Linked DNA regions of Homo sapiens. The protein of the gene in region 3 purifies or fractionates together with the protein of the main gene of each other region. This does not show direct contact. Each region holds a gene or a part of one and is shown on either strand. Other genes may lie near its edges.

Region 1 (3,500 bases), on a different chromosome or scaffold from region 3:
GAGTGTGGGGTAGAAATCAGGTATTCCTCAGCCCTTTATGCTTCCCATGTGTCCACGAATCCAGACCATGGCTTGACTTAAGATATTTGCTGAGTCTCCTAGAACCCTGCTATGGCTAATGTAGACATTCACTGTAAGCTTAAGCAAAGCTTAAGCTCGTCCCATCAATTTGGCAACTGGCCAAGGCATTTATTCTGATAAAATGCAAATGTGTGTGTGCTGCAGCCTGAAGAAATTAAAATGAGAAACTGTTAGGATTCAGCATTTCCTACTTAAATTAATTCAGCAACCATAAAAATTTGACGCGAATGCTTGCCAGAGGTGATGCAAGGAGTGGTACGGGAATCAAGCGCCACCCATGGATGCCTGAAGGATTGTCTCCTTACATGGAATAGACAGTGATGCCTTCCCGTTCCTCAATCTTAACGCTTTTGTCACTGGGAGCTGGTGGGTCGCTTTGAAATTGGTTTGGAATCCGGAACCAGACTTTTAATTTCTTCTGCAGAGAGCCATCTTCATTGGGGAACACAGCAAAGGAAATAGGGACTGTCATCCCCATCCCAATTCCTGAAAACACAAAAGCACAGAGTGAGGCAGGGATCAGAGACAGAGCTTGCTCAGGGCTGTGGAAGACACATTAGTTCCATTCGTCTTTCAAAGTGGTATGTTTTTGTTCTTGAAATTAACAATGAACATTTCAAGTGTTAAAAATACAGAAATACATGAACACCTGTTATTTGTATACGCTGTTGGTAGGAGTATAGTGGTACAACTCTAAAAAATGATTTGGCAATATATATCAAGACTGTAGATTATCAGTCTCTTTCTCTCTCTCTCTCTCTCTCTTTCTCTCTCTCTCTCTCTCTCTCTTTCTTTCTTTCTTCCGACAGTCTTGCTCTGTTGCCCAGGCTGGAGTGCAGTGGCATGATCTCGGCTTACTGTAAACTCTGCCTCCTGGGTTCCTGGGTTCAAGCGATTCTTGTGCCTCAGCCTTCTGAGTAGATGGGATTACAGGTGTGCGCCACCACACCCAGCTTATTTTTGTATTTTTAGTAGAGATGGGGTTTTGCCATGTTGGCCAGGCTCGTCTTAAACTCCTACCTCAAGTGATTTGCCCATCTTGGCCTCCCAAAGTGCTGGGATTACAGGTGTGAGCCACCATGCCTAGCCAGTATTTAATTACTGCCTATTTAAAACATCAATCTAAAATATGGAAAAGGCTATAGGTAGTAAGATATTCATTACAGCAGAATTATAAATTCTGTTCAAAACAGGAATATGTCTGTGTAAATTACAGACACATGATACAATATAATGTAGCTAGGAATTATGCTTAAGAAGACTCTGGTACTAGTGGAAAATAATTATGAAATAATAACTAACAGAAGCAGGATATGTAATTATAGGAACACTAAGATTACATTAAAAAGCCCTAAAAAATACATTCAAAAGACAACATTGATTGTATTGAATGGGGGAATTAGGGAATACTGTTTTGTTATTTTAAAGGTTTTCTTTAGTGAGTTTTATAATTCTCATACATATTTTCATTTAAAAAAATGTTAAGACAGTGTTAAGAAGGAAAAGATTTCTTCCTGACCTCCTACAGGTTAACGTATCTTCCAAAGCCTGACTACTTTAGTCCTAGTAAATTTTTTTTTTAAAGCAAGTTTTTTAAGTAAGTAAAGGAATAAAAGAATGGTTACTCAATAGACAGAGCAGCTCCTAGTAAATGTTACTAAGGCTAACACACGTTTTTAGCTCTCTAAATTATCAGCTTGAGAAATATCCTAAAAATTAAACACATCTCTTTTTTTTCCTCTTGCTTTCTGACCCATTTTTGTTTTGCAGTGATTCCAAAATGCTACCCAAATTAGAGGGCTTCTCACGAGTCAAACTCATTTTTAAATATGGTTTACATCTAACAGGTACACCTTTCATGAGACTTCAGGCTTATCATTTTAAAAGTAGAGAGGTGGCCAGCATGAACTGCCAAGTTTTTAAGAGCAGGATGGCCCAAGAATTCTCAGACCCTTCATTTGCCAGACAGGGTCTGGAACCTCACTGCTCACTGAGCCTCAGGACCCAGCAGAATCTGAGCTACCAGGGGCTGACTCTGGGGATCTCCAGCCTGATGCTGGCCTTGCGTTGTGCTGTAGCTCAGCTTACTGTGGGCACACGCCACCTAGTCAACCAATCCAAAGACATAATAAGCACTGCAGGGTTAAAAAAAAAATAGAGCCTATGGTCCCACACCTGGGAGTGAAGCAGGAACTTGGAGATATTGAGCAGGGATGCCTTCAAGTGAGGGACAGACTGGGCTGATATCAGAGTGGTTTCCCCACATTCCTGCAATAAACTGCTTGTTCACACAGTGCAGGAGGTTCACAGGTCATTGAAACAGGTCACTACAGGTGCCTTGTAGCCCCTCACTTGCATTTACCACTGATGAAGTGAGACCTTGCAAAGCTGGTCCCCGAGACCAGAGCCACATCCTGCAGGGGTACTCACCCTTGTCATTGGTGCCCCCCGCATACTTTGCGACCTTGGGCATTGCTTCCCGTAGAGCCTCATCCACAGGCTTATCTGTCACTTCTACTGTGGCAAATTTGCCGCCTTCACAGGCCCTTTCTTCATAGGCAACTTCTTCCTAGAGAGAGAGAAGGTACAGTGTTTAAGAGGTACAAAGTAGCAACTTGTGATGTCTCTAGAAGTAGTAACAGAGGGCTAAAAAACTTTCCTTGGTGGGTATGGCCATAGAGCAGAAGGGACAGGCCTGAGTATGAAGGGCCATGAGAAATAGATTCTGGGATTCTTGTAGAGACAATATCCAAAGCAGGAAAATCTTATACATTATATTCTTGGGGAGATAAGAGAAGATATTGCATCCTGAAAACCAGAATGCTACAAAAATGGAACATTCAGAGAGCAAAAGAGCTCTCAGAAATTAAAAATCTGATAACAGAGAAGAAAAATTCAGTAAACAGGTTGGAAGATAAAGTTAAACAGGAGATTCAGAAAAAAATACAGATAAACTTAGAAGGGAGGAAACAAAAAATACAACGATGACAATCCAACAAAACTGTGAAGCTCCCAAAATTAGGCTCATTCTAGTAGGAGGACTGCAATTCAAGGAATCAGAGTTCATTTTTCCCTTGGCCTCCTTGGGGGACTGGATCCAGGACCTCTATGGATACCAAAATCCATGGATGCTCAAGTCCCTGATATAAAATGGTGTAGTATTTTGCATATAACCCACACACATCCTCATACATACTTTAAATCATCTCTACATTACTTATAATACTTAATACAATGTAAAAGCCAAGCAAATAGTTGCTACTCTCTGTGCACACACACACACACACACACACACACACACACAAACACACACACATGTATTTTATTTATTTATTTATTTTTGAGACAGTGTTTCACTCTGTCACCCAGGCTGGTGTGCAGTGGTATGATCATGGCTCACTAGCCTCGACCTCCTGAGC
Region 2 (3,500 bases), on a different chromosome or scaffold from region 3:
AATCTCCACCTTTTTCTAGGAAGCGTCATGAATATTTCACCCCTTGGTAAAGAAACTCATAAAGGCGGTGGGTGCGCTGGCTCACGCCTGTAATCCCAGCACTTTGGGAGGCCGAGGTGGGCAGATCACCTGAGGTCAGGAGTTCGAGACCAGCCTGGCCAACATGATGAAACCCTACCTCTATTAAAAATACAAAAAATTAGCTGGGCGTGGTGGCGAGCGCCTATAATCCCAGCTACTGGGGAGGCTGAGGCAGGAGAATTGCTTGAATCTGTGAAGCAGAAGTTGCAGTGAGCCAAGATCGCACCACTGCACTCCAGCCTGGGCAACAGATTGAGACTCTGTCTCAAAAAAAAAAAGGAAACCCATAAAGGTAGATGGCCCAAACCTCCTTGCGCATGACTCTCTTGAGTACACACACCCTCCCTTTTTTGAGTGTGTACTTTTCACTTTGCAATAAATCTCCATACTTCCACTATTTTCTGACTCATCCTTGAATTCCTTCTTGCAATAGTGTCAATAGCATGGACACTGGCTGGGGTCAAGGTCAGACTGGTGTTTGGGGGCCTCCCCTAGCCCACCGGTATCAACTTCACTTAAAAAAAGGACGGAAAGCCTGGGCGACATAGAGAGACCCCATCTCTACAAAAAATTTAAAAATTAGCCAGGTGTGGTGGCACATGCCTAGAGTCCCAGCTACTTGGGAGGCTGAGGTGGGAGGATCACTTGAGTCCAGGAGACCAAGGCTTCAGTGAGCCATGATCACGCCTGCACTCTAGCCTGGGTGACAGTGAGACCCTGCCTCAAAACAAACAAACAAAAATAAGGTAGAGAACTGTCATTCAAATTTCTCTCAGCTCTGGCTGGGTGCGGTGGCTCATGCCTGTAATCCCAGCACTTTGGGAGGCCGAGGCGGGTAGATCACCTGAAGTCAGGAGTTCAAGACCAGTCTGGCCAACACGGTGAAACCCCATAACTACTAAAAATACAAAAATTAGCTGGGCCTGGTGGTGGGCACCTGTAATCCCAGCTACTCAGGAGGCTGAGACAGGAGAATCACTTGAACCTGGGAGGTGGAGGTTGCAGTGAGTCGAGATTGCACCATTGCACTCCAGCCTGGGCGACAAGAGCTAAACTCTGTCTCAAAAAAACAAACAAACAAACAAACAAAAAAAAACAAATTTATCTCAGCTCCATATGTCAGCTCCACATGGCCAATGACCACGTTTTGTAATTCTTTTCAACTGAAATTAGGGGCCGAGGAGTTGCCCTAAGGCTTATTGATATATGGCTCAACAGAGACTACTGACCCCAGAGCCCATGCACCTCCACCTTCTGAGCAGGCAGTCAAACCATTTCCACCCACTTCACTTGGTTAAGTGACAGTCTATTTGGAAGTAGCTTCAAGCAGTCTAGTAAGGATGCTGGTATTTGTTGAGTACCACACGAGGGGCTTTATAGGTTCTCTCTTCTTAATCCTCATATCATTCCTGTGACTAAACTGAGAACCACACTGCTCTAGAGGTGAAATCATTTTAGCAAAGTACTGTGCCAATTAAAGGGAAGAGTTGGAACTAGAACCCACATCTTTTGAACTCGCTCTTCCCAGATACTGGCACATTTCTCCTCGTCTGGACCAAAATATCACAGACCACATTTCTACTTGTACCCAATGTCTAGGGGTACTGAGTGGTGAAATCCACTTCATTTCTACTGGGCTTCAAGTGACTCTCCAAACACAGTAACAAGGACTCAAGGGTAGACCAGACCTTTATGAGCACAGCTCCTACCTTAGCTACATGATGTGTTTAATTACAACCCCCCAAAAACCCTGTCATCCATACACAGCAAAAGTCTGGGAAGCCTCATGGGGGTGAAAGGGCTGAAGATGGAGAAATTAAAGAGCCCTCTCCCAGCTTTTCTTGACTAAGGATCCCACATAGACCAGCCTAGAACCAAGCCTCCAAGCACCCACATAACACAGCTATTACACTGCCTCACCTCTCTGTGCGTAGATTTGTGCAAGCTCTGCAAACCGCATGTCGTAGCAGATGCCCAGACCCACTCTGCAGTAAGCTGTTTCCAAACAGAAAATGCACAAATGAAAAGTTAACTCCCTACAGCATGGTGTGGCAGGGGAAATCCTCCATGACATAATGATCACAAAACACTGACAGGGATAAATTAACACAGGACCTGAGGACAGAGATAATTTACAAGCTCATTCCTACTTGGACTTCATCTCATAAAGACATCATTTACATCAGCGGAGTAAAGATGAGAAATTCATTCTAATTGAATGCTTATTATCTAGATGGGAGGTACTCAACTGTAGCCTAATAGGTATACTCTGGAAGCCGTAACAGGAAGCTACAATCAAATCAAAGGGCAAAATCGTGTCAAATCCTTAGTTCTCAAATAAGCCCGAACTTTCCAGATCTGTGATGATTCTCTGCCTTTCTCACTTATGGTCTTTCAGTTAGGTTATGTGAAGAAATCGGAGAGAGACAAAAAAGAAATAAATACCTGATTGTCTTCTACTGAGATTGCTAAAGAGGCAAACTTATCTGGTACATACGAGTATCAAATGTGGAGAAACTATCACCCGGACTCAATGTTTTAGATTCTTGAAATGTAATTTTTCCAGGAACATCAATGTCAAACAGATGGATCTGCATCACAAATAATGGATTTGGTTACCTCTTTTCCAGCAGGGTCCATGGCAGTAATGACAATATCTTTCCCCGGGCAGATACGGAAGGTGCTCTAAGATTAACTATACAAACAGCACCCCCAAACTGCTTATAATCCACCCCACAAGCTGGCTGACACCTTATCAAAATGAATTCTACCACAGGGAACTGGAAAAATGATACTGTACCTTTTATAACCCCTATTTTCTAGCAGTCTGCAAATCAACCTCTAGGTTTCTCATGGGAGGTAACTAATATGTTGCTTTTTAAAAATATAAATGCTAAATAAAGACTTCTCAGAATCAGGCCGGACACGGTGGCTCATGCCTGTAATCCCAGCACTTTGGGAGGCCGAGGTGGGCGGATCACCTGAGGTCAGGGGTTCGAGACCAGCCTGGCCAAAGTAGTGAAACCTTGTCTCTACTAAAAATAGAAAAAAAAATTAGCCGGGGGTGGTTGTGCGTGCCTGTAGTCCCAGCTACCCAGGAGGCTGAGGCAGGAGAATTGCTCAAACCTGGGAGGTGGAGGTTGCAGTGAGCCGAGATCACGCCATTGCACTCCAGCCTGGGTGACAGAGCAAGACTCTCTCTCTCAAAAAAAAAAAGAAAAAAAAAATACTTATCAGAATCAAACTGACAAATTGACAGGAGAGGTGGAAAGTAGGTGGGCATTTAAAAATCACCTGAGGTCAGGAGTTCAAGACCAGCCTGGCCAACATGGTGAAACCCCGTCTCTACTAAAAATACAAAAATTTGCCAGACATGGTGGTGCATGCCTATAATCCCAGCCACTTGGGAAGCTGAAAGA
Region 3 (3,500 bases):
CTTTTGGATGCAGGTATTCGATAAATTATATGAGATATTCAACACTTTATAAATATTTTATGTTTGATGGTTTTATGTTTGATGATTTTGCCTAATTGCAGGCTAATGGAAGTTTTCTGAGCACATTTAAAGCAGGCTAGGCTAAGCTATGATGCTCTGTAGGTTGGGTTTATTAAATGCATTTTCCACTTATGATATTTTCAGCTTACGGTGGGTTTATTGGATGTAACCCCATTGTAAGTGCAAAAGCATTTGTACTTAAAATATACTGGAAATAGACTGGATTAACTGCTAAACAGATGACAATCATTTGAAAACAAAACACAAATTGTATGTTTCTGAAATTTTAAGAAGGCGAATTGGTTACAGGGTTTGCCAAAGGGGGTGATTGAGAATATTATCTGGCTATTTAAACCACCAAACTAATTTGCCCTTTATAAATAACCTCCATAGTTTTTTTTCAATGCATAATATGCATTTTAGATTGCTTATATCTACCTACTGTGTTCTGTCTACTACTAAACTAATTATCTGAAGAATATGGACTGCATCTTACTTTCCAGCTCCCACACTGTTCAGCAGAAAAATATAAAAGTACCAACACTGATTCAAGAAGAAATATAAAACCAAAAAACCAATTACCATTAAAGAAATCAAACTAGTAATGAAAAATCTACCCCTGTTAAAGACACCAGGCTCAAATGTTTTAAAGAAACCGCTAGTCCCTACCAAATGGTTTCAGAGATTAGAAAAACAGGTTAGTTACCCAACTCATTTTATGAGGTCAGAATATCCTTGAAACCAAAAGCCAATAATGATACTATAAGAGTAGAAAATTTATAGGCCAATCTCATTTATGAACACACATACAAAAATCATTCATTAGCTAATTCTACAGTACATATAAAAATCCATAGAGAACAAGTAGGTTTTATCTTAGGAATGCTAGGATGGTTAAACATTAAAAAAAAAAAAATTTGTCAATAGCACCATATTCACCAGATTAAGAGGAAAAAATTCTATGAACATTTCAATAGATGTAACAGATGCAGAAAAACCATTCAATAAAATTCAACATTTATGACTTTTTTAAAAATTAGCAAACTAGTAATAGAAGAGAACTTTATAATGAAAAAAAGGTTTCTGAAAAACCTACAGCAAACATCATGCTTACTGATAAAATGTTAAAATGCATTCCCATGAAAGACAGGAACTATGTCTTCTGTCAGTAAAAACTTCAGGCTTAGCATGAATGAAATATTTCAAGGCCAAGAGACAGACTCCAAGGCCCAAATGTCAGCTGTCCCCAAAAGAAGGTAAAATACATCTGGGCTTCCCTCAAGTGTCTGTACTGTTCATTGCAAACTTTTTCTGGTGGGAAATATTTAGTATGTAATACTAAGTGGACACAGGAAAAAAAGCAGGACACAGAATGATATCTATGCTCTGATTAGAGCTATATTAATTTTTTTTAAATATATGGACAAGGACTGCAAACAAGCATGGAAAACTGGATACATAAAAACTTGTGGAAACGTGGGTACAATTTCCTTTTTCCTTGTTATTTTAACATTAGCAGAATATTTTAAAAGCAAGCCCATGACAAAGTCTGTTTAGGTGTTTTGATTTATATCTTAAGCAGGACAGCTTTCTGCTTTATAACAGCAGTCTGCTGTAAACAAAAATGTTTAGGGGAATTTTCCTAATTACCTTAAAGTGACTTGGAAAGTGGGAATATAAAGAAAAGAATAGGAGGAAAAGGAGGGTAGATATAGTTATCGTTTACTCTGATGATAGCTAGGAGAAATAATTACCTCCTCTAGCTTGGTAAATTCTTTACGAAATTCTTCTTTTAGGCCAGCATAGTCTTCTTTATTTTGGCTTCTAATAAAGCTTCCTACCAAGGATGGCACCTAGACAGAGAATAATTTCTTAGTTTATCAGTTTATGGCTAACTGTATCGGCCCCCTCACATAAAAATATGGTAGAACCCTTACAGTCCTGGTGTCAAGGTGTTCTAGAAACACCAAGGGTGCATCAAGTTCCTGCGCTCACAGAGGTAATGGACTGGTCTTAGGAACAGTTTTGTGGCCTAAAATGCTGGCTTGGTCAGGATTTTATAAATTACAAATAACAGAAGCTACCCTGGCACGTTTAAGAAACAACTTTCTTTCTTTTTTGAAATGGAGTCATGCTCTATCACCCAGGCTGGAATGCAGTGGCACGATCTCAGCTCACTGCAACCTCCACTGCCCGGGCTCAAGCAATTCTCCTGTCTCCGCCTCCTTAGTAGCTGAGATTATGGGCGTGCGCCACCACGCCAGGCTAATTTTTGTATTTTTAGTAGAGATGGGGATTCACCATATTGGCCAGGCTGGTCTGAAAACTCCTGACCTCAGGTGATCCATCTGCCTCAGCCTCCCAAAGTGCTGGGATTACAGGCTTGAGCCACCACGCCCGGCCAACACAACTTTCTTTAAAGGAGACTGAGTGGCTCATAGAATTATTGGGAGGCGGAACAAACAGGCTTGGAATTAAGACAGAACATCCCAAATTCATGCTGAGAAATGGCCTAATGGGAAGCACTCACTGCTGCCAGTCCAAGCTGAGCACCAGATGCTTCAGTTTGTGAGGCTGCCAGAAAGTAGAGTCTGAGATAACTGCTAACACCACTGGCACTGATGCCATTTCTACTCTGGAATTTTATCTTGTAACCCACACTGCTGAAACCCAGAAGCTCTGCCGCTGCTCTCACCAGGAAAACCAGTGGAGAGCTGAATATCTTAAGCAGATATCCCACCAAGCCTGTTTCCTTACCTTGCTCGTTTCTGATTTGAACTCTATGTGTGTGTCTGACAGGAAGAGCCTAGGTCACAAAACTTGGCCCCAACTGCAAAGAGCTAGGGAAGAAAATTTTTCTGATTTCTTTGTTGGGGAGGACACCAGGAGACTGTTCAAAAGGGACCGACTACCTAAAGACTTGATGGGTGTAGCATCAGATGCTTTAATGCTCGTGATGGTGTTTATGTGTTTTAATACTTTGGTCTTTGGTATCATTTTATTGCAAGACGCAGAAGTCCACTCATCCTAGTTTAAGTAAACAGGCACTTGTAAAAATATAGAATCCCATGAAATCCCATCCACATCAGTTCAGCCTGCCTTCACTGGGACTGAAGGCTTTCAGGCAGCCCTTTCATCCACATTTCCACCTGGGTCTGCCTGGTCTTTCGTCTGTTTTTCCTCACATTTCTGCTCCATATTACTTTGCATACTTCAGTCCCTTTGCAATGTTTTTAATTCTTGCTCCTCTAAAAATTTATTTCTTAAGTGGCTTTGGTTTTTCTAGCCTCTAATTAACATTATTTGAGCCCCAACGCTTAGTTGTCTTTACTGTCCTAACCTTTACTGTCTTAGTTCTGTGTCTCATTTCCAAGTTCCCAGGAGAGAAGATAACTGGCCCAGGTGTGTGGGGTGGGGTACATTTCTGTTCTGATGGGCTG
Region 4 (3,500 bases), on a different chromosome or scaffold from region 3:
GGCCCATTTGCTGCTTTTTAAAGGCTACAAGAAGTCTCTCTACAATACCTTCCTTCCTTCATGCTGAGAGGCCCAGAGCCCACCACTGCCTTCCAAACCAGGTGCTGGGAAAACGAGGCAAGTCAAAGAAAGCTGGAGCCAAGGAAGACTCAACACTCTCTTCCCACTAGCCAGGCACAGTGGCTCGCGCCTATAATCCCAGCACTTTGGGAGCTCAGGAGTTCAAGACCAGCTTGGGTGACATGGCAAGATCCCCATCTCCACAAAAAATAAAAAATTAGTTGGGCATGGTGCCACATGCCTCTAGTCCCAGCTACTAGGGAGGCTGGGGTGGGAGGACTGCTTGAGCCCAGGAGGTCAAGGCTGCAGTGAGCTATAATTACACCACTGCACTCCAGCCTGGCTGACAGAATGAGGCCCTATCTCAAAAAAAAAAAAAAAAAAAAAGGAAAAAACAATTTTTTTTTTTTTATAAAAAAGGTAAGCATTTACAAGATGGCCCTCTTGGACACACACCAGGTTTCACAATAAGACCAGATAGGACAGAGTCCACATGAGACAATATGCTCATACTCGACTCAAGTGAGGGCCCCTGGGTAAGACACTTGACGTCATCTGGCTTTCTCACCTGTGAAATAAAGTACTTGAGAACTGATGAAAGAATCAAAAATTTATCAATGAGATTCTGCCCTTAGCTAATTTTTATAAGTACTGTGCAGGCCGGGTGCAGTGGCTCACGCCTGTAATCCCAGCACTTTGGGAGGCCGAGGCAGGCAGATCATGAGGTCAGGAGATCGAGACCATCCCGGCTAATAGTGAAACCCTGTCTCTACTAAAAATACAAAAAAAAATTAGCCAGGCATGGTAGCGGGCGCCTGTAGTTCCAGCTACTCAGGAGGCTGAGGCAGGAGAATGGCGTGAACCTGGGAGGCGGAGCTTGCAGTGAGCCAAGATCGCGCCACTGCACTCCAGCCTGGGTGACAGAGTGAGACTCCGTCTCAAAAAAAAAAAAAAAAAAAAAAAAGGCTAGGCGCAGTGGCTCACGCCTGTAATCCCAGCACTTTGGGAGGCAGAGGCGGGCGGATCATGAGGTCAGGAGATTGAGACCATCCTGGCTAACACGTGAAACCCGTCTCTACTAAAAACACACAAAAAATTAGCCAGACGTGGTGGCAGGCGCCTGTAGTCCCAGCAACTCGGGAGGCTGAGGCAGGAGAATGGCATGAACCCAGGAAGCAGAGCTTGCAGTGAGCCGAGATCGCGCCACTGCACCCCAGCCTGGGTGACAGAGCGAGACCCTGTCTCAAAAAAAAAAAAAAAAAAAAAATGACTGCAAACACACGACCACTGAATTCAATCAAGCTCACCCATCCCTCAGTTACTAAGACCCCAAACCCAGGAGTCACCCTTATTCTCTATCCCTCCCATGCGCCAACCCATCTGCCTCCAAATATATCCCAATTTTGAATACATCTCATTATCTCCACCCCCCAGATCCCTAGTCCCAGACTCCTCTGCCATTCCTGGGATGACTCCAACAGTCCCCCACTGGTCTCCCTGCCTCCTCCTTTTGACCCTCTATGGTCCATCATGCACGCAGCAGCCCAGATGATCAGATCACATCACTCCCTGGCTTAAAATCTCCCAGTTTTCACTACACTTGGATTTCCTTACCGAAGCCTGCCTGACCCTAGCCCCAGCCTCTTGTTCAGACCTTTCGCTCCTCAGGACACTGTAGCAACACTGGCCTTAGCTCTTATCCTCAACACACTCAGCTCATACCTAGGTGGGTGCTCTGCACATGCTCCTTCTATTTGAAGTCTCCTCCAAAAATGGTAAACAGCTGCGTTCGTATCATTTAAGTCCCAGTTCAGATGTCACCTCTTCTACGAGGTCTTCCCCAAACACCCCAGTTAAAAATGCCATGTTCCCACCCCTATTCTCTCTACCTTATCTTCCCCACAACACTCAGTAATACAATATTCTTATTTTTCTACGTAATTTCCCCAGGACAACAATTTAAGCCCCACTATTCTTGTTCACTACTGCACCCCCAGTGTCTAGAACAATGCTAGGCAGTGCTAGACATTAAGCTTTTTCTTTCTTTTTCTTGAGACAGAGTTTCACTCTTGTTGCCCAGGCTGGAGTGTAATGGCGTGATCTCGGTTCACTGCAACCTCCACCTCCTGGGTTCAAGTGATTCTCCTGCCTCAGCCTCCCGAGTGGCTGGGATTACAGGCATGTGCCACCACACCCGGCTTATTTTGTGTTTTTATTAGCTATTGGGTTTCACCATGTTGGCCAGGCTGGTCTTGAATTTCTGATCTCAGGTGATGCATCTGCCTTGGCCTCCCAATGTGCTGGAATTACAGGCGTGAGCCACCGAGCCCAGCCAAAGCTTTCAAAGAACACTGTGAAGCAGTTGGTTTGAAAGGTAATGCTGTGCTCCCTTAATCCTCAGGATGGTGTGTCTGTTCCCTCTGTCCACATCTAAGATGGAAGCTTATTTACCAATTCATTCACTCAATTCTAATAACAACTGATATCTGCGAAGGTTATCACAGTGACCATACAACCAGAATCATCTGTTTCACAATTCAAACCAAGATTTTATTTTAACATGGCACAGAGTTTCTGCCAAATATTTTTGTAGTTAACTGCCATCACAAATTTATATGCAAGAGGTTACATGACTTCCCCCAAGGTCACATGAAACCTCAGCACCCCAGTTATCTCAAGGCAAAACCAAACACCTAATAAACATACTTGCAACTGCTCAGCCCCTCTTGTGTACTACTCAGTCATATGCACAAAAATAAATGCTAAAAACCAGAGAATAAATGTGGTTTTTCAAAAATCTCACCTCCTTAGCTGGTTGCAGTGGCTCACGCTTGTAATCTCAGCACTTTGGGAAGCCAAGCCAGGATTGCTTGAGCCCAGGAATTTGAGACTAGCCTGGGCAACATAGCGAGACCCCCATTTCTTTAAAAAAACAAAACAAAATAAAACAAAACCCACGTTCTATTTTCTTATTTCTAATCTTACTACCTGGTAGCAGGTACTGTCAAACGAGAGTACACATTCAACTTGGCACTGTTCTGAGGTTATGGTGCCCTGATCCACAGGCTGAGCTCGATGCCAAAGGGAAGCAGCATAGTGCCAGTTGCTAAGCCCTCAGGCTTCGGAATCAGACATGTCCAGATTCAAACCATACCTACTAACAACTACTGATAAAGCCCCAGGCAATTTTTTTTTTTTTTTTTTGAGACGGAGTCTCACTCTGTCACCCAGGCTGTAGTGCAGTGGCGCGATCTCGGCTTACTGCAACTTCCGCCTCCTGGGTTCAAGGGATTCTTCTGCCTCAGCCTCCCGAGTAGCTGGGACTACAGGCGCCTGCCACCACACCCAGCTAATTTTTGTGTTTTTAGTAGAGATGGGGTTTCACCATATTGGCCAGGCTGGTCTCGAACTCCTGACCTTGTGATCCACCTGCCTTGGCC
Region 5 (2,732 bases), on a different chromosome or scaffold from region 3:
GTCAGCATCGGACCTAGGGTCTCGTCTGTAAGAGGAAGATGAATGCTAGAGAAGTGAAAACTGCTCATTCATCCAGTCATCTACCCACCCATCCATTCAATAAAACCATCCACCCATCCATTCTTCCTTCCATCCATTCAACAGATACTTCCTGGGCACCTATACAAGAGCTTCTCAAGAAACCGGGCTTTGTCTCCCGGGCTGTGTCCTCTACAGGTCTAGCACAATAAGCACAAAGTACATGCTCAAAAACTTGTTGTGGTCAAAGACTTTGTTCTTGAACTTATGTCTCTAGGCTCTCAGAGTGGGCGAAATGACTCCTAAACTTTCTATTCCAATTGCCAAGATAAACGCGATAATCTTGCAAGAGCGTCCTCATAGCTAACCTATATTGCTCAGCTGCAGCTTAAGCTTAATTCCATCTTTCTGGCCTTTGAATGGAAGAGAAACCAGTCCGGACTGTGGAGTCCTTAAGAGAAAGAATGAACTTTACACTGTAAGACACAAGACTAATTACTTTATTAGGTGCATTCTATAAGTTGAAGAGGAGAATTTTTGGCAAATAAATAAATAAATAAATAAATAATCAAACAGAGACTCTGGGGCCCGAGGAGCTCAGGAAAACGGAAGCGGAGTCTTTGCATAGTTCTAAATGAACAGGAGGTGGCAGCAGTAGGCAACGCGGATTCTCGGCGGAAATGCAGCACTTGCAAAAACCAGGGACAGAAGGCTTTGAGAAAGAGGAGAAGGTCAGAAGGTGACTAACTATTTCTTTTTCGTAGAGACCATGGTGTGGAACATTCGTCCTCTCTACCAGGGGCAGGATGCCGCGTCCTACATGATCTGCCTGGGCATCCCGTACCCTGTCATGCCCGCCTGGGAGGCTCCCTTGTTGCTGCCCATCTGCAGGCCTATTACGTTCTGTCCCTGGCGAAGCTGCTCCTCGGAAAAGCCTCTCCGATTCTGCTGGGCTTTCCTGGACAAGGAAAGTGAGAGGGAATAATGTCATTATGACAGTTTTCCAATCCTTTTCAAGATATGCAATTAGACAGGCTCTGCTGGGGGTCCCCAAATAGATCAGCAGGTCCTACCCTGAGCTGTGGTTATGAGCTATGGCCCTACTCTGAGCTATGGCCCTACCCTGCACTGTGGACCTACCCTGAGCCGTGGCGCTACTCTGAGCTATCTCTGGCCCTAGCCTGAGCTGTGGCCCTACCATGATGCATGAGCTCCCTATCTTTTAGAAGCCCAGGTGTTTTCCAGAATTCCAGCAAAGAGTAGGGCAGAATCAGTGGCTACCTCTCTGGGGAATTCACTCTCAGCTTTTCTTGTTTCTCTTTCTCCCCACTCTCCCTTCTTCCCCCACCACTTTAGGCCATCTCAGACTTCTAAGAAGAAGCCTGCTTCTTCTTACCCTTTCTCTCACAGCTACGTCAAGCCTTTGTGAAAATTAAAATTGGTTCTTCTTACAAAGCACATCATTAATCCCATTCCCCCTTTCCCTGTATAGGGCCAAGATGAATATACCCTTTTAGAGCCAAGGGACCTAAGAGTTAATGAGGGGAAATGTCGCACTCTAGATTAGAGGTCTGCAAACTTTGGTAAAGAGCCAGATAGTACATAATTGTGGTTGTGTAGCCACATGGGAACACGGTAGTTCACTAATAATACAGACACTAAAACCAGGGTTTCAAATGGCCAACCTCTCAGAAGTTTTCAGGGCGAGTGTTCTTTAAAATGACATAAGCTGGTAACTTTTTTTTTTTTAATAACTGTCAAGGAGAAGAAAAGGGGATGCTGGAAATGAATAATCAATTATTTGCCACAGGGCACTCTTCTACAACTAAATTACCCAGTTTAAGCTTCCTGCCTACCCTACCCCCTGAAAAAAAAATCATTTTAAAAAAAGACCCTTTACTGAGAGATAACCATATAATTTGTCATCCGGACTAGGACGCTGTTGAGAGTGAAAGAGAGTTCTATTAATAGATATACTGGGACAACATAGATATTAACCATGACTGTTCCAAACAAACATGACATATTTACCCTTTATTAAGTACACAAACAAAAAAGAAGGAAGGAAGGAGGGAGGGAGGGAGGGAAGGAGGAAGGAAGGAAGGAAGGAAGGGAGGGAGGGAGGGAGGGAGGGAGGGAGGGAGGGAAGCAGCCAGGCAGGCAAGAAAGCTCAGAGCTGGCTTAAGTCATAATAAAGCCAAGTTCAGACATGAAGCCACCTTCAAGAAAGGCCATCCAGTCCTGCTGAGCCTCAGGAGAAACAGAACCTGGGTGGAGCTGGGAGGTATCTGGTAGAAAAGGCCCAACCATTTCTGCTCTGGTTAGGTTACTGGCCTGTACAGAAGCATCAGTCTTTCATTGCTTTGGGGAACTCAGTTGTGGAGACAGCAGTGCTTGGTCCTGGGGCTTTGCACATAAAGCCTCTGTAGAGTTCCAAGGCTTCAGACCCTCCCTCTGGTTAAAATCGCCTTGTGGTCCAGGGGGCAAGGAAGAGGCTTTTACCTGTGAAACCAGGATGGCTCTCCCCGATAGCAGCCATCATCCTTGGTGACTGCAACGCTGCCTAAAGCCATCAGGGTCCTCTGCACAGCTGCCATGTCCTTCCCTGGAAGCCAACAAAGAGCTTAAAGCCAAGCACGTGTCAGAGCCAAGGAATGCTGGAAGGATACGGCTGGACACCCAGGAGGGAAGTTCTGATAGAAGGCTGCAGGTGA
Region 6 (3,500 bases), on a different chromosome or scaffold from region 3:
TGAAAGCAACCGATGTCCCAGCTGGGTGCACCCCAGCTGGGTGACGGGAGGTGGGACTTTGGAGTCTTGGTCAGGGGCTCACCTCCGTGTGAGGCATAATTCTGCCCACGCTTTCTGCCTTCTGCTCCACAGTGTCCTCAGGGAAGTGCGCGAATGTCACGGGACTGTTCTCTGTGGTTCCATAAGCAACCTAGAGGGTCCAGAAAGGGTGTTTGAAGAGGGCTCAGCACGTGCAGAGGGATCAGGTGAGCTATCTGAGGAAATGGGAAGGAATTCATAAAAGAAAAGGGAAAGTGGAGGGCAGCCGAATGGTGGAAACAGAGACATCATTGGTAGGGGCCTGGGGTCAGGAGGCAGAGGTGCTGGGAGTGAGCAGACTAGATCTCTGCAGGGCCCCAGATCTGAAAGAAAATTGAGAGCAGGGACACCATTCTCTTCCAGCTGGAGCTCTCTCAGTGCCCCGTTTCCCTGGAGCAGCCACCTGTCTGTGCCTGTGGCTCCGGTATTACCAACACCCCACACTTCTCCCCCCATCCCCTGGCTGCCTTAACCCCACCTTCCTGATTTCAGGCCACATCCCCGGCTCCTCCCTTCCAAGCTGAAGGCCCCATAAACTTGATGAGAAAGCCAGCCTGCCTTGGCCCAGCTAGGAGTGGCACAGACACAACCCCACCCCCGCATTCTGCAAACCCTGAACAAGTGCCTGGCCTTGGGGCAGGCGTCCCCCAAGCTCTGGAGAGTTTCCCGTGAATTTATTTCCATCAAAATAAAAAAACAACCTAAGCAGTGATTTTAAAAACCAGTGGTACCCCCACCCCACCTCCCCCATTTCCAGTGGTTGGAAAGCCTGAGCAACAGAAAAACCAGAAGCCAGCCTTGGAGAAGCCTAAATACCATCAAGGAATGGTCTAGGCCAAGTATGACCCTCCTATCCTAGAGGCAAGGGGCAGAGAGGTTTGGGAAAAGGGCAGGCCCTGGAAACCAGGCCCCAACACGAGGGTACTGGGTAAGGGAAGAGAGGCTAGTTACCCCGTATCCTAGGTCCCCTTTAATCAACGGATACCAGATCTCATCCATCCTCCTCCCTGCACCAAGCTTCCCCCATATCAGCTGCTCTGGCTCTGGCACGGCTGGGGTTTGGTTCAATGTGGGTTCTGGTTTCTCCTTCCACCCCTCATCACAGACAATATCCTGTGCCAGGCAGCTTGGAGCTCACCCTGAGGCCAGAGCTGTGACCCTGCCTGCTCACCCTCCCCTTTCCACAGGAATCCGGACATCGTGGCTGGCAAGTGGGCACACAGAAATCTGGCGGGCTGGGGCGGGACTGCCCACAGAACTTAGGGTCTGGCAGCCAGAGCCGTCCAGGGCTGGTCCCTCGACCTGCCCCACCCCCTCCCGCACCCCTCCTCACAGTCCTGGGGCCACCGCCCGAATGTGGCATCTGCCAAGTACACCTCGGCGCCACTCAGCCGCCACCCTGAGACCCCTCAGGGGCGGGTCCTGACCACTAGGGTTGGGGATGAGGGATGGAGATATTTCGGGGCGATGAAGGAGGGGGGATGGTGCGACTGTGCTTGTGGCCTGTGGTTTCCAGGTGTGTTTGCCATTCCTGTGGGCCACTCTCCCCCACTTCCCACTTCTCTGCTTAGCCTTCAGCGGTGGAAAAAGGGGATGAGGGCGCCGGCGACAGAAACGCAAGCGGGGTTGGAAGAGAGGGGTGGGGGCGCGCCCGAGGGTGGGGAAGGAGCTCGGGTCTACCCAGGGCCAGCTTCGGCGCGTCGAGTCTGAAGTGGGAGACCGACGCCGGGGCGGCTCTCACGCTCGGCAGGCGCCGCACAAGCGCCCCTTTAAAGCGCAGGCAGCTGGCCCACCGCAGGGAGACGCATCCAGCTGTCCGGCCCCGCTTCCTCCCGCCTCGCATCCAGGGCACCCGGCCGAGCGTGTGTGGATGGCGCGGCGTGGAGGCTCAAACCTGAGCAAACAAATAAGTTGAGGGAACGCCTCCCTCTCTCCGATGTAAACTCGGGGCTCCAGACATAACTATTCCCCCTTCCCAGAAAAGCCCCGGGAAAGGCGGTAGGCAGAGGAGCACCATAGGAGAGCGGGGGGCTACAGCCGGGGCTCAGGGCTCGGGGCTCGGGGGCCACGGTCCCACCCCCTCATGCACGGTAGCCGGCTGGGGGAACGGCCCCGCCCCCTTCCCCGTGGAGGGCGGGGGCGCATCTCTGGGCGCGAGCGAGTTAAGCCCAGTGGCCTCGATGCTCCACGTAGGAGCTGGCTCGGCTGCCGGCTGCGGTCAGGGCCACCGTATAAAGAGGGCGGCAGACCCGAGCGCCTAGGACTCGCCGCTGCCCGCGCCCCGCCGCCGCTGCTGCCCCCAGCCCCGGCCCCAGGCGTCCCAGCCATGGTCCGCCCAATGCTCTTGCTCAGCCTCGGCCTCCTGGCTGGTCTGCTGCCGGCGCTGGCCGCCTGCCCCCAGAACTGCCACTGCCACAGCGACCTGCAGCACGTCATCTGCGACAAGGTGGGGCTGCAGAAGATCCCCAAGGTGTCAGAGAAGACCAAGCTGCTCAACCTACAGCGCAACAACTTCCCGGTGCTGGCTGCCAATTCGTTCCGGGCCATGCCGAACCTCGTGTCATTGCACCTGCAGCACTGCCAGATCCGCGAGGTGGCCGCCGGTGCCTTCCGCGGCCTCAAGCAACTTATCTACTTGTACCTGTCCCATAACGACATCCGCGTGCTGCGCGCAGGTGCCTTCGACGACCTGACCGAGCTGACCTACCTCTACCTGGACCACAACAAGGTCACTGAGCTGCCCCGGGGGTTGCTCTCCCCGCTGGTCAACCTCTTCATCTTGCAGCTCAACAACAACAAGATCCGTGAGCTGCGCGCAGGCGCCTTCCAGGGAGCCAAGGACCTGCGCTGGCTCTACCTGTCGGAAAACGCGTTGAGCTCCCTGCAGCCCGGGGCCCTGGACGACGTGGAGAACCTCGCCAAATTCCACGTGGACAGGAACCAGCTGTCCAGCTACCCCTCAGCTGCCCTGAGCAAGCTACGGGTGGTGGAGGAGCTGAAGCTGTCCCACAACCCCCTGAAAAGCATCCCGGACAATGCCTTCCAGTCCTTTGGCAGATACCTGGAGACCCTCTGGCTGGACAACACCAACCTGGAGAAGGTGAGCTCCTGGCTGTGGGCTCTGCCCTGGTTCCTTCTTCCCTTCCTGGAGGCCCCAGGAGCCAGGGCCACAGCTGGCACCATCCCCCGTCCCCAGGTTCCCTGTCCCTCTGGCTATCTCCAAGGTGAGCAGCTCTGCCACCTCCCTTCCTCGCCTTGTCACATCCCTACCCTAATCCCTGTCTGCTGCCAGTCTCGACCACTGCCCTCCTAGGATTCTTACATATAAAAGGAGTGGGACTGCCCTGGCCCCACAAAAGGCCCCCTAGGGCCATCTCCAGTGCTTCCAAACCCCCAACTGTGAGCAGCAGCCACCTCTTCCT
Region 7 (3,500 bases), on a different chromosome or scaffold from region 3:
CTCACAGTTGGTCACAAAACTCTCCTTCCATGGAGTTTTTAGAAGTAGACTGGGTTCGTTTTTAATTTTACTTTTTTTTTATTTTCGAGACAAGAGTCTTGCTCTGTAGCCCAACCATGCAACGGCACGATCTTGGCTCACTGCAACCTCTGCCTCCTGTGTTCAAGCGATTCTCCTGCCTCAGCCTCCCAAGTAGCTGGGATTAAGGTGCACGCCACCACACCTGGCTAATTTTTGTATTTGTAGTGGAGATAGGGTTTCACCATGTTGGCCAGGCTGGTCTTGAACTCCTGACCTCAAGTGATCCACCTGCCTCGGCCTCCCAAAGTGCAGGGATCACAGGCATGAGCCACCATGCCCAACTGGTTTTTCATTTTTATAGTAATCTGTTCCCTGAAGATATTTCTAACAAGTCTTTTATTTCTTTACAGTGACATAGTGGTTTCTTACTCTATCTGGTAATCCTAATACCTGATGTCACAGTGGATTAATTTCTCCTGTCATTTTCCCTGCTCTCTCTCATAATAGCTTATTTATATTCTTGCTGGACTTTTTTTTCTAGGCTACTCTAATTTAAAAATTATTTTTTTTAAAAAGTACAAAATAAAATTAAAATAAATAAGTTCTGTTGAGGAAGGTCATGTCTGTTTGGGATTTAATTCCCTACAGACTCTGGTAGCAGATTTTTCAAGATTATACAATTGTTGAGACTTTTGGCACATCAGCCTAGACCTTGACTCTAAACTCACCTGTTGCTGGGCGTGGTGGCTCACGCCTGTAATCCCAGCACTTTGGGAGGCTGAGGCAAGTGGATCACCTGAGGTTAGGGGTTTGAGACCAGCAACATGGCAAAACCCCATCTCTACTAAAAATACAAAAATTAGCTAGGTGTGGTGGCACACACCTGTAATCCCAGCTATTGGGAGGCTGAGGCATCAGAATCACTTGAACCCGGGAGATGGAGGTTGCAGTGAACAGAGACTGCACCACTGCACTCCAGCCTGGGCATAGAGTGACGCTCTGTCTCAAAATAAATAAATAAATAAATGTACCTGCTTTGTCCTCATGAGATCACTGGAGAAAGCATGAGTAAACTTCACATTATTCAGAAATATACCAGCAGCTGCTGCTTGTTTAAATCCAGTTTCTGAAAGAGGTTCATCTACTCCTTGTCCTGTGATATATTAAGAAGAGGAACAATAACATTCAAAACTACATATCAGAGATGTATAAATCACATGTAGAAAATATAAGCTGCATTTATCTAAATTTTAATGAAAGATTTTTTAAGTACTCTTCCACGTAACTTTTCAGGGAGTTATTAGCAAGTAAAAATAAGTTTTAAGTCTTTAAAGGCTCAGGTATTCAATTATTTTCCAAAAGAATGCTTGCCTAATGGGAATTAGGTGATGATGAGATAGAAATGTCTTAGCTTTTCCCTCTTTTATGTTTGCCCCTCTCTTCATTAATTGGCTCTGATCTTACAGGTACTGTGTTGGGGCGGTAGGACCATCATCTAAAAGTTTTTTCCTTCTTTATTCCCATCATCCAAATGCTCAGTATTATAATGGTATTACTTTTCCTCTTTCCTTCCTCCCTCCATTTCTTTGTCTTTTTCATTTTAAAAATGCTTTGAAACCTCTATTTCCAGGATAACGGTTGGCTGGACACTCTGAAGGGACCTCCTACTAAAGATCTAAATGGTGTATGTGTGTGAGTGTGTGTGTGTGTGTGTGTGTGTGTGTGTGTGTGTGTGTGTGTGTGTGCTGCATTGCTGGGCCCACAGAACATACAAAAAATCTCCAAGGGACAAAGTAAAGCAACCCCAAAGCCCTGAGCTGAACTGTGAATACCGACATGAAAAAAATGAAGGTGGTGGACTATGAGGACACGCTGGTGGGGCTGGGAGAGGAGGCCTGCTGGAGGGGACGGCAAGCGGGAGGACTAAACACAACATTCTTGGGAGCGAGGGCTCCTGTAAGGAGACTTAATGCAGCCTCAGGCCTGTGGTAAAATAAAATGCAAATCCTTTTCAGAGCAAAGCATTCTCAAAAGAGGCTAACAGGTTTTCCACTAATTTAGAACAAATAATTGTTTAGCCAAAGATTCAACACACAAGAAAATAATCTACCATAAACCAAAGCCACCCATCAAGACTTCAGACATTGAAATCAGCAAATAGGGAATTTACAATAACTATGAATAAAACATAAAGACAGAGTCACAAAAATAAGCAAGTAACAGTAAGCATCAAAAATAAGTAGACAATTTTCTAAAATAACCAAATAGATCTTTTAATAATAAAAATCAGGATTGCTGGGGGCTGGAGGGCCCCTCAATGGATAAACAGAGATTCAGATGAAAGGAGGTTTAATGAACTCAAAGACAGAGCAGAAGATATTACCCAGTACACGGCACAGATACAAGGAGATAGAGCATAGCTCAGATATATTAGAGTTCTAAAGGAAAGAATGAGAACTCCTAACGATGCCTTGTCTTAGTTGCTGTAACAAAGTACTACAGACTGGGTGACTTGTTAACAACAGATATTTATTTCTCACAGTTCTGGAGGCTGGAAGTTTGAGATGAGGGTACCATCATGGTTGGGTTCTGGTGAGGGCCTCTCCACATTACACGCTACTGACTTCTCCTTCAGTGCTCCCATGGCACAAAGAGGAAAGAGCTCTCTGGTGTCTCTTGAATAAATTCCATTCATGAGGGCTGCACCCTTGTGACCTAATAACCACCCAAAGACCCCACCTCCTAATGTCATCATATTGGGAGTTATGATTTCAACATGTAACTTTTGGGAAGAAAAACATTCAGTCTATAACATGCATCTAATTGGAACTCTAAAGGAATAAAAAAAAAAAAATGGCCGGGCATGGTGGCTCACGCCTGCAATCCCAGCACTTTGGGAGGCTGAAGGGGGTGGATCACTCGAGGTCAGGAGTTCAAAGTCAGACTGGCCAACATGGCGAAATCCTGTCTCTACTAAAAATACAAAATTAGCTGGGCATGGTGGAGCACGCCTGTAATCCCAGCTACTTGGAAGGCTGAGGCAGGAGAATCACTTGAGCCCAGGAGGCGGAGGTTGCAGTGAGTCAAGATCACACCACTGCACTCCAGCCTGGGCAACAAGAGTGAAACTCCGTCTCAAAAAAATAAAAGAACAGAAAAAATGAAGGAGAGGAATATGAAAAGAAAATAGCTAAGAATTTCACAGAATAAGAAAACACATGTACATCAAGCAGGATACATTAAAAAAAAAATTCCTCCTAGATATATTATGAGAAACTAAAGAATATCAAAATTGAAGAGTTTAAAGGAAGTTACAGAGAAAGACATATTTCCTACCATGGAACACCATTTAGCTGATAGAAATCTCTTAACAGGAAAAATGGAACCAAAACTGCAGAATGCTATCTTCCAAGTGCTGAGAGAATCATCAGTTACAAGTGTGTACCGACTGAAGCCACTATGTTTACCACCAGCTGCTC

What was found.
Region 1: the proteins of GSTO1 (region 3) and HEBP1 fractionate together in Homo sapiens (co-fractionation; one large-scale study listed by BioGRID). This does not show direct contact.
Region 2: the proteins of GSTO1 (region 3) and NIT2 fractionate together in Homo sapiens (co-fractionation; one large-scale study listed by BioGRID). This does not show direct contact.
Region 4: the proteins of GSTO1 (region 3) and ACO2 fractionate together in Homo sapiens (co-fractionation; one large-scale study listed by BioGRID). This does not show direct contact.
Region 5: the proteins of GSTO1 (region 3) and TAGLN3 fractionate together in Homo sapiens (co-fractionation; one large-scale study listed by BioGRID). This does not show direct contact.
Region 6: the proteins of GSTO1 (region 3) and ACSF2 fractionate together in Homo sapiens (co-fractionation; one large-scale study listed by BioGRID). This does not show direct contact.
Region 7: the proteins of GSTO1 (region 3) and TIGAR fractionate together in Homo sapiens (co-fractionation; one large-scale study listed by BioGRID). This does not show direct contact.

The regions. Positions count from the first base shown.
Region 1 is NC_000012.12:12,986,766-12,990,265, forward strand, and holds part of HEBP1 (heme-binding protein 1), read right to left. Parts: intron 2,651-3,500; coding exon 2,512-2,650; intron 568-2,511; coding exon 387-567; intron 1-386.
Region 2 is NC_000003.12:100,344,757-100,348,256, reverse strand, and holds part of NIT2 (omega-amidase NIT2), read right to left. Parts: intron 2,673-3,500; coding exon 2,579-2,672; intron 2,077-2,578; coding exon 2,002-2,076; intron 1-2,001. UniProt on the Homo sapiens protein: Has omega-amidase activity. The role of omega-amidase is to remove potentially toxic intermediates by converting 2-oxoglutaramate and 2-oxosuccinamate to biologically useful 2-oxoglutarate and oxaloacetate, respectively.
Region 3 is NC_000010.11:104,261,392-104,264,891, reverse strand, and holds part of GSTO1 (glutathione S-transferase omega-1), read right to left. Parts: intron 1,914-3,500; coding exon 1,815-1,913; intron 1-1,814. UniProt on the Homo sapiens protein: Exhibits glutathione-dependent thiol transferase and dehydroascorbate reductase activities. Has S-(phenacyl)glutathione reductase activity. Also has glutathione S-transferase activity.
Region 4 is NC_000022.11:41,472,117-41,475,616, reverse strand, and holds part of ACO2 (aconitate hydratase, mitochondrial precursor), read right to left. Parts: intron 1-3,500. UniProt on the Homo sapiens protein: Catalyzes the isomerization of citrate to isocitrate via cis-aconitate.
Region 5 is NC_000003.12:112,011,654-112,014,385, reverse strand, and holds the end of TAGLN3 (transgelin-3), read right to left. Parts: intron 2,624-2,732; coding exon 2,521-2,623; intron 977-2,520; coding exon 835-976; 3' UTR 501-834; downstream 1-500.
Region 6 is NC_000017.11:50,467,718-50,471,217, reverse strand, and holds part of ACSF2 (medium-chain acyl-CoA ligase ACSF2, mitochondrial isoform 2 precursor), read right to left. Parts: intron 3,179-3,500; coding exon of another isoform or gene 2,405-3,178; exon of another isoform or gene 2,338-2,404; intron 191-2,337; coding exon 83-190; intron 1-82. Other genes in the region: CHAD (chondroadherin precursor), read left to right, coding at 2,405-3,178. UniProt on the Homo sapiens protein: Acyl-CoA synthases catalyze the initial reaction in fatty acid metabolism, by forming a thioester with CoA. Has some preference toward medium-chain substrates. Plays a role in adipocyte differentiation.
Region 7 is NC_000012.12:4,334,713-4,338,212, reverse strand, and holds part of TIGAR (fructose-2,6-bisphosphatase TIGAR), read right to left. Parts: intron 1,175-3,500; coding exon 1,053-1,174; intron 1-1,052.